Regions from separate parts of the Homo sapiens genome. Here region 2 is linked to region 1. The links come from fine-mapping of genetic effects on gene expression. Tissue or cell type: monocytes. Region 1 holds a variant in brackets; the other region holds the start of a gene. All regions are shown on one strand. Distances are between the middles of the regions. Region 1 overlaps CUX2 (cut like homeobox 2). Region 2 holds the start of CUX2 (cut like homeobox 2).

What was found. PIP is the estimated chance that this variant, and not a neighbour inherited with it, causes the effect.
Region 2: it holds the start of CUX2, and the variant in region 1 is the best candidate, but not a certain one, in a credible set for the expression of CUX2 in monocytes (Quach 2016, PIP 0.83).

Annotation. Positions count from the first base shown.
Region 1 is chr12:111,307,084-111,311,460 of GRCh38, reverse strand. It overlaps CUX2 (cut like homeobox 2), which reads right to left. Exons shown (of 22, transcript NM_015267.4): 11 at 4,349-4,377; 12 at 4,204-4,262; 13 at 3,128-3,176; 14 at 2,935-3,034; 15 at 779-1,420. The region is part of intron 2 of LOC105369983 (a long non-coding RNA gene); the gene reads left to right. Among named protein-coding and RNA genes, the nearest start is that of MIR6760, 5.1 kb to the right of the region's middle. The variant G/A (reference allele first, on the strand shown) is at 1,880.
Region 2 is chr12:111,032,469-111,036,845 of GRCh38, reverse strand. CUX2 (cut like homeobox 2) reads right to left here and starts at 2,681. Exons shown (of 22, transcript NM_015267.4): 1 at 2,606-2,681. The coding sequence starts at 2,668.

The sequences.
Region 1 (4,377 bases):
AAAAATTAGCCAGGCATGGTGGCGTTGTGACTGTAATCCCAGCTACTAGGGAGGCTGAGACAGCAGAATTGCTTTAACCCAGGAGGCAGAGGTTGCAGTGAGCTGAGCTTGTGCCACTACACTCCAGCCTGGGTGACAGAGTGAGATTCCATCTCAAAAAAAAAAAGAAATGATGACGACAATGACTATGGCAACCACCACCCCTAACAGTTCTCAAGCAGCACTGCATGCCAGGTGCTGTGGTCAGTGCTTGATGCCCGTTTAATCCTCATGGTGCCTCCTGGAGGCTGACAGATGCAGAAACCGGGGCACAGGTGAAAGGAGTTGTCTGAGGTCACCCAGTGGGTGAACAGCAGAGCTGGGACTCAAACTCAGGCATTTGTGAGGCCACAGCTGGGACCCTTCATACTGATTACCTGAAAAATCAAGTCTGGTAAGGTTGGCGGTCTTACAAATGTATAAACTGAGGCTTGGAAGTGCTGGATGAATACCTGCCAGGGCAGCGCCTGGAGCCTTTTCCCGCCACCCTTACCCTGAGTGCCCCAGGAAGGGCAGACTGTCTCTGGCCAGGGCCAGGAAGGAGAGAGCGAGGATGTATTTCCTGCTTTTACAGAGGGGAAACTGAGGCACAGACAGGCAAAGCCACTGGCCCTGGGTCACACAGCCAGGTGGTGGTAGAGCTGGGCTTTGAACCCAGAGCGCGTGTCCTCAGCCCCCAGCCCTGATGCCCTGGACCTGGCGTGGTGGCCAGCGGGGACGGGCCCTCTTGGGCACTCACCTCGCTGCCGCACTTGGATGGTCCTGAGCGCCAGTACATTCTGCTCATCCGACAGGAACTGCTTCATCTTGATGAAGGGCTCCTTGCCCTTCACCGTGAGCTTGCGCCAGGGCTTGGGCCGGGCTAGGATCTCGCTGACCGAGCCCTGCGACAGCCCCAGCACGTAATGCCCAAACACCCGCTGCCCGATGTTGTGTTTCAGCAGCTGCTCCTTCACCTGGAAGGCGATCTCTGCCGTGTCCAGCTGCTCCTCCTCTGCCCCGGGCCCCGCCGCTCCGCCCCCACCACCATCCGCGGGCTCAGGACCGCCCAGTGGCTCAGGGCCAGGGGCCGGGGTGGCAGGGGCTGTGGGGGGCTTGGCGCCATAGAAGGCTGGGGGGAACACCAGCAGGCCGCCCGCCTCTCCCTTGAAGGCGGCTGGGGGCATCATCAGTCTCTCCCCTGATGCCAGGCTGGGGAAGGGGGACAGCGAGAAAGTCCGAGTGCCGTCAGGCCCCAAGCTGGGGCCCAGCAGGGGCTGCCCGGGGCTGGGAGACAGGGGGTCTTCTGGCCCTGGTGGAGGTGGGAGCTGCTGAGGGGAGGGGTAGGACTGCTCCGTGCCCAGTGAATCCTTGATGGAATCGTCCTCTGATGGGTCTTCCTCTAGAACACCCAGACAGACAGACAGACAGACAGACGGGGAAGACGATGATGAGGGGAGAGAGAGACAGGGAGAAAAAGAACCAGAGGGGGAGAGAGACAGAGAGAGACAACGAGAAAGAGAGACAGAGAGAGAAACCACATCAGAGAGACAGAGAGAGAGAGGGAGAGCGAGACAGAGACCACATGTGAGAGAAAGAAAGAGACAATGAGAGAGACAGAGAGAGAAATCACATGAGAGGGACAGAGAGAGAGAGAGGGAGAGCAAGACAGAGAGACCACATGAGAGAGAGAGAGAGAGATAAAGAGACAAAGAGACAGAGTGAAAAACCACATGACAGAGAGAGGCAGGGAGAGGGTCGGGGGGGAAGAGACAGAGAGAGACAGAGACATATATAGAGACAGAAAGTCAGAAATAGAGGAAGGAAGGAGGAGGAGGAGGGAAGGGGTTGGTGGGGAGGT[G/A]GGGGTGGGGAGCAGTGCTATAGGCGTCCAGCAGCTGGAAGCGCCGACCTTGGCTCTTTCTGCCCTACCCCCTCCATTCTCCAACTCCCACTCTTCCAGGCCCCATCCAAATGCCAGTTCTGGGGAGCGCCCCACCCCCATCACCAAGAGCATCAGCTGAGAACTTGCTATGGGCCCAGCACCTTGGCCTGGGGTGGGAAGTCGAACTTGCCACCACCTGCAGATGGGCCCTTGCTGGGCACCCACCCTGGAGCTGACTCACTAGACCTACATGGCACCCATGAAGTGGGCCCCAAGGTCACACCCATTTTATGGATGAGGAAACAGAGGCAGCACAGTGTCCTGCCTGGGGCCACAAGGCTAAAAGTTCAGTGGGTGGCTGGGTGCGGTGGCTTATGCCTGTAATCCCAGCACTTTGGGAGGCTGAGGCAGGCGGATCACCTGAGGTCAGGAGTTTGAGACCAGCCTGGCCAATGTGATGAAACCCCATCTCTGCTAAAAATATAAAACTTAGCTGGGTGTGGTGGTGCATGCCTGTAATCCCAGCTACTCAGGAGGCCGAGGCAGGTGAATTGCTTGAACCCAGGAGGCGGAGGCTGCAGTGAGCCGAGATCACACCACTGCACTCCAGCCTGGGCGACAGAGAGAGACTCGGTCTCAAAAAAAAAGTCAGCGGGTGGCTGACAGGGTGATCATGTCCGCAGCCTACTGCTCCCCACAGTGGTCGGCTGTGGGGGGTGTAATGACAATGCCCTGCTTGTCCCCCTGTGACCACTTCATGAAAGCCGCTGCAGCTCAAGAAGGCTCAGTGGGGAGTGGAGCTCTTTAGGGGGCCTTGGAAGGGCCCAAACCAGCTGTGTGACCCCAACGATGACGTGGGTGTTTGTGGATGCCCTGCAGGACAGGCATACAGCAGGTGCCAAATCAATGCACACCTGTTGTTCTGTCGTTCTCCTGCCTGCATGGAAGGCAGTGGTCCTTGGGCATGAGAAGGCCAGAGACCCACAGGCAGCCCCCGCCCCAGCCCTCAGCCCCAGAGTATCCTCCTCCCCTACCAGGGCTGGCCAGGAGGCTGGGCTTCTCCAGAAGGAATTTCTGCGTGGGGAAGAAGGCCTCCTTTGCAATAAGCAGTGAGTCTTCAGGCTTGGCCATGCCCTAGGAGACAAGAGGCAGGTTGAGAGGGCACCTGGTGGGCGGAAGGCTCACTGGGGCAGCCTGCCCTGCAGGGATGGTGGCAGGGACACTTACCTGGGGGAGGCTGCAGGTGCTGGAGGCCAGCTTCATGGCTTTCAGGATGCTGCCAGAGCAAGTGGAGAGGGTCTGAGGTCAGCCAGCCCCCGGGCTGGAGGAGAGGTCTTTCAAGAGGCACTGACCCGGCTTACCTCCCTGACAATGACTGCTCCATTCCCCAGAACCCCATTAATTCCAGAGTCATTGCAACCCCAGGCCTGAAGTAGCAGGCTCATTAACAGGTGGCGATGTTACCTGGAGGGGTGCTGCCTGAACTGACCCATTCTGGCCAGCTTGAGTTTAGCTGGTTAATGAATCACCTTCCAGTTACCATGCCTATAATAAGTTCCCTTGTATGGTCTACAGGCAGCTTCTTTTTTTCTTTGAGATGGAGTCTCACTCTGTCACCCAGGCTGGAGTGCAGTGGCACGATCTCTGCCTCCCAGGTTCAAGCGATTCTCCTGCCTCAGCCTCCCAAGTAGCTGGGACTACAGGTGAGCGCCACCACACCTGGCTAATTTCTGTATTTTTAGTAGAGACAGGGTTTTGCCCTTTCGGCCAGGCTGGTTTTGAACTCCTGACCTCAGGTGATCTGCCCGTACAGGCAGCTCTTAATGGAAAAGGACTGAAGATGGTTGAATTTCGTTTTGTTTTTGAGACAGGGTCTCACTGTGTTGTCCAGGCTGGAGTGCAGTGGTGCCACCACAGCTCACTGCAGCCTTGACCTCTCAGGCTCAAGCAATCCTCCCACATCAGCCTCCTGAGTGGCTGGGACTACAGCACGCATCACCACCACTCCTGGCTAATTAAAATTGTTTTTTTCTCACAGAGATGGGGTCTCCCCATTGTTGCCCAGGCTGGTCTCAAACTCCTGACCTCAAGCGATCCTCCTGCCTGGGCCTCCCAAAGTGTTGGGATTACAGGGATGAGCCACTGCACCTGGCCTGAGGATGGTTAAGGTTTGATATCCACAGTGTTAGTGGAGAGAAGAACAAATGGGGTTTAGTAGGAGGGAGGAAGATGATGAACTTTGCCAAGAGCTCCTGGCCAGGGAAGAGCACTGAGGGTCTGTGGAGCCCCACCCCACATGGTACCTCAGCTCCGTTTTAATTTCCTCATAGTCAGACTGGGCCTGGAGCTTCTCTTCCAGCTTCTAGAAGAGCAAAGAAAGATGGTGAGGCTGGTCTGTGTGCTTCTGCATGGGGCCGCCTGCCCGCCTGCCTCCTCCCCAGGACCCACTTCTATGGCCTCGGACTTGGCCGTGAGCT
Region 2 (4,377 bases), 270 kb after region 1:
GGGGAACGCGGCAGATGGAGGGCCAAAATGTTTGCACGCGGCCACGGCTGCCACGTTTATTTCTTTGCTTTCTAGAAGTGTGCTGCCTTGCAAACTCCCACAGGGACACCCCCTCCACTTAATATCGATGTAAATGAGTTTACCCCCCTTCCCTGAGAGCCTTCTCCTGTGTGCCAGACACACTAGCCATTGTTTTAACGAACAACCCCCCCCTTCACATATACACCCTGTAGGCTGGGAGGTCTGGGTCCTATCTCCCCATCACCTGAACAAACCCCTCCACCACCCCCTACCTTTATCCTTTCCAGTTCAAATTTGCTTTCCATCTATGCATCTTCTAAAACCCTAACAAAGGGTTCCCAGATTAATGGGCGTCCAGCTGGAATCAAGATTTGGGTGACCTCAACCGTTCCACAAAAGACCCCTTGGGTAGAAGACTGAAGACAGTGAGGTTCCAACCTCCCTAGTTCAGACATTAGCCCCCTGGGAGCCGCACCCTCCCCTCAGCACCCAGCCCCTGCCTCTCCCCGGGCTGCAGCCCGAGCTCCCCGGATTGAAAACGAGTTATCTAATGAAAATTGTGTTAACTGACATTCCGGCCGACCGGGAGCAAATACCAGCGCTGTAAATCTCGCCGCGGAAATTTTCTCCAGCCCAGAATAACAATAGGACCCTGCAAAGGGCTTTCGCCAGCCCTTCTGGTTCCTCTCCTCTTGTGTGCCACGTTCTTGTCATTCCTTATGTTACAGAACATCAATCATAAATAAAGACGCTGTCCCCCAGCCGTGCCCGGGTCTCATTTACAAACATTAGCAGGGAATACGATTACCATTGGCCTTCGTGCCAAGCCCAATGTGGCTGCCCAATTCTCCCTCTCTCTCTCTCTCTCTGCCTCCATAACCCCCACTCTTCCAGAAAGGCCACTTTAGCATCATTTAAGCCGGCAGGCACAGCTCGCAGCCCTGCCCGTCTCAGTTGGCCACCAAACTGTAGCCCCAACTCGAGTGCGGACCCGGAATTGCAAGGCACTCGGCAGTTATTAACTGCATGCCTCAGTGCCCCGATTTTCTCCCCAGCTCAATGGCTTTGGGGGAGGGGGAGAGCGAGGAGTGGGGCGTTCGGAAGGACGGGGACTGGGAAGCGGCCAGGACGGGGAGAAGGCGCGGGTGCTGGAACCACTTATCAGAAGAAACTTAACGAGATTTGCCGGCGGATTAAAAAAAAAAAAAAAAGTGGGTCCCTTTTTATCTCCAGACTGATGATCTCGCGTCTTCCGCGAATGTCACGGTCAAGGCAGGATGCTCTAACCGCCCTGTTATCCGCACCATTTTCCCGCCCCTGATCCCCGCCGCACCCGCCGAGACTTTGCGAGACTCCAAGGCTGGGGGGCCTTGCCAGGCGCGTCCGGGGCACTCCGGGAAAGAACAGAGGCCGGAGCCGCGCCTCCACGGTGCGTTCTCTGAGATTCCACCTCCCAGCCCCGGCTCCTACGGGGTCCGCAGAGAACACCTCCAAATCTAGGGGAGGCACACAGACTCCCACAAAGGGAGGATGGGGAGAAAGTGATGGGGTTTCGAAGAGTCGCCCTAGGGAAGGAGAGAGAAAGAGCAGGGAAGAGAGGAAAGAAACAGAAGAAAAGCAGAGACGGGAGAGAGGAGACGAGGGGAGCAGCGGGGAGAAACGCAGGAGGCAGAACAAGCAAGGAAATCTCTCATTTAAAAGTTCCCTTGGGCCCGAGGGCTGGGAGTCACCTGCTCTGCGCCGCTCCCGGCTCTCCACCGCCCTGGAGGCAGGAGCGCAAACTTGCGAGCGCCCGGGCCCACCTCCACCGCCCGTCTGCATCTAGACTTGGGAAGGGGATGGAAGGGGCGGGGGGGTAAAGGCAAGAAGCAAGACGAACCCCAAGACCCCGGCCCGAGGAGAAGAGGTCTGCCGGCGCTTGCGGCCAGTCCGGCGGCGGCGGCTCTGGCGGCGGCGGCGGCGGCCCCCGGGTGGCGGCGCGTCCGGGCTGCGCAGCCAGGCGGGCGGCGAAGGCTGAGGTGCCGGCGAGCGGCGGGGCGCGGAGCCGCCTCCTCGCCAACCCCGGCTCCCTCCTCCTCTCTCCTCCTCCTCCTCCTCTCCTCCTCCTCCTCCCTGCCCGCCAGCTCCCTCCCTCCCTCGCCGGAGCCCCAGCCGGGTGCGGACTGGCAAGCGGCGCGCTCCGCGGCCTCCCCGGGCGCCGCGAAGTTGGGAGGCGCGCAAAGTGCGGCTCAGGGGGGACCGCCGGGGGTTCCCGCCAGCAGCCCCCTGCCCGAGGCCGTAGCCCCTGCCTTCCCCGCTCCTCGCCCGGCCGCCTGGCCGCTCGGCCGCTCCGCCGACCGAGGGCTCACTAGCGCTTCTCCATGGTCGCGGCAGCTAATCGATGACTGAACCGAACAAAGAGCAGCGGCGAGATCAATTCCTAATACCTATCGATGGGCAGCGGGCGGCCGAGCCCCGGCGAGCCCCGGCAGCCGCCGCCCGCCGCCCCAGGGCGTCCGCCTGCCCGCCCGGGGACCTCCCCAATGCGCCCAGGGCGCGCCCGGGGGCTCCTCACGGCCGCGCGGCCGGCGCTGCCCGCACTAACCTGGAGTCGCCGTAGATCAAATCGCTTCCAATATTGAAACATCGATCCCACATTGGCGGCCATCTTGGGGGCTATCGAGACGCGCACACACAAGAGTTTGGCTTTTCTCAATGGCTGCACTCAATATCCGGGCTGGACTCCCCCCAGCCCCGGGGCCGCCGCCGGCCGCCCGGGCCCTGAGCGCCGCGGCCCGGGGCCCCTCGGGCGCCCTCCGGCCTCCTGCCACCCGCTGCCCCTCGCCGCCGCCGCGCCGCCGCCGCCGCCGCCGCCAACGGGCCCGGGAGCCGTGCGCCCCCCCGACCCCCGGAGGGCGCGGGCGGAGCGCGCCGGGCGGGGAGCTCGGCGCCCGCCCGGGGGAGGCAGCCGGGGATGGGGTGGGAGGGGAGGGGTTGGGGGGAGGCAGCCTCTCCGAGAGGCGCCGGCGCCGCCGCTGCCCTGCCTGCCGCCGGCTCCCGGGCCCGCGGAGCGCTCGCTGCATCTCCCCCCCAAGTCCGGGGTCGGTGTGCCGCGCGATTGCACTTGACTTTGGCTTTTTGCAAACTTATCAATACTGACGTAACGTGCTGATCAATGCAAAGGGAAGTTTGGGAGGGGGCGCTGCGGGAGGCGGGCGCGCGGGGCGCCTACCCCCGCTTGCACCTGTCTACCCCCAGCTCCCGGCATTGCACGCTTAAAAAAAAGTTAATAGTTTGAAATGCATTTTTTTTTCTTTTGCAATCGGAGCACACACAACACGTGCCTCGGGCTGCCGCCGCTCCATCGCCAGATATGCTTGGGATCCGAGGGTCGCAGCCAGCACTTGGGGCTGCGTAGACGCGCCGGCCGGAGGGAGGGTGGGAGCCGCCCGGGGGCGCCACTGAGTCGTGGGAAATGTCACCACCACCGCCCACAGTTTCCGCGCCATTATATTATTATTATTGGCGGGGAGGGGGGCTTCGTCTGAGTAGTAGCTCAGGGTTCTTTACGGGCGGGGGCCGAGGGCGGGGCCTCAGGTCCTTTGGAATAGGGATTTCTGTTGTTATTATCTGGGGGGTCTTTAACCCAATTATAGGGACTCCCCCACAGCTTTGCAAGGTGAAACCCTTTTACTGTGATGATGATTATTGGAGGTTTTGTTATTTGGTTCTGAACCAAACCTCTGGAGGGCCTTTTCCCCCAGTGGGCTTGTTTTATTGTTATGACTGTTGAGGGTGCCCTACCCCTGCTGTGGGGGCTCCGGATCCTTAAAAACCTCGGAGGTTTCTGCTGTTGTTATCATCATTATTATCCGGGGCTCCGTTCTTTGCAACATGACATTCCTTTATTGTGATTGTCTTTGGGGAGAGGGTCTTCAGCATGGCTAGAGGGAGGTTCCGGTCCTTTGCAATTCTTCGGACTCTTGACAACCGGGGTGACTGGATTTCTTGTTTTACATTTTTCTGTCTGCTTTTTTGTTTGTTTGTTTGTTTGTTTGTTTGTTTGTTTTTGCCTCTGTGCAAGCTCGAGGTCCTCTGTTTCCACTTCCCCTGGAGGTGAGATGTCACCTCCAGGGGGAACTCATACTCCCAGCCCCCTCCATCACCAACCCCCTTGCCTATCCCTGCCACCACCCTTAAAGGTGAGGTCACCCTTCCTCTCTGGCTTATTCCCCTGATACATAGCACCGCACCCTCTTCCCCACTCAAAAAAAGGGGACATGTTTTTCCTTTTTCTCTGATCAAAAGATTTGCTTTTATGGACAGCAAATGGAAATTATATTCTTTTTATGACCCAGCCTAGACTTCTGACATCAC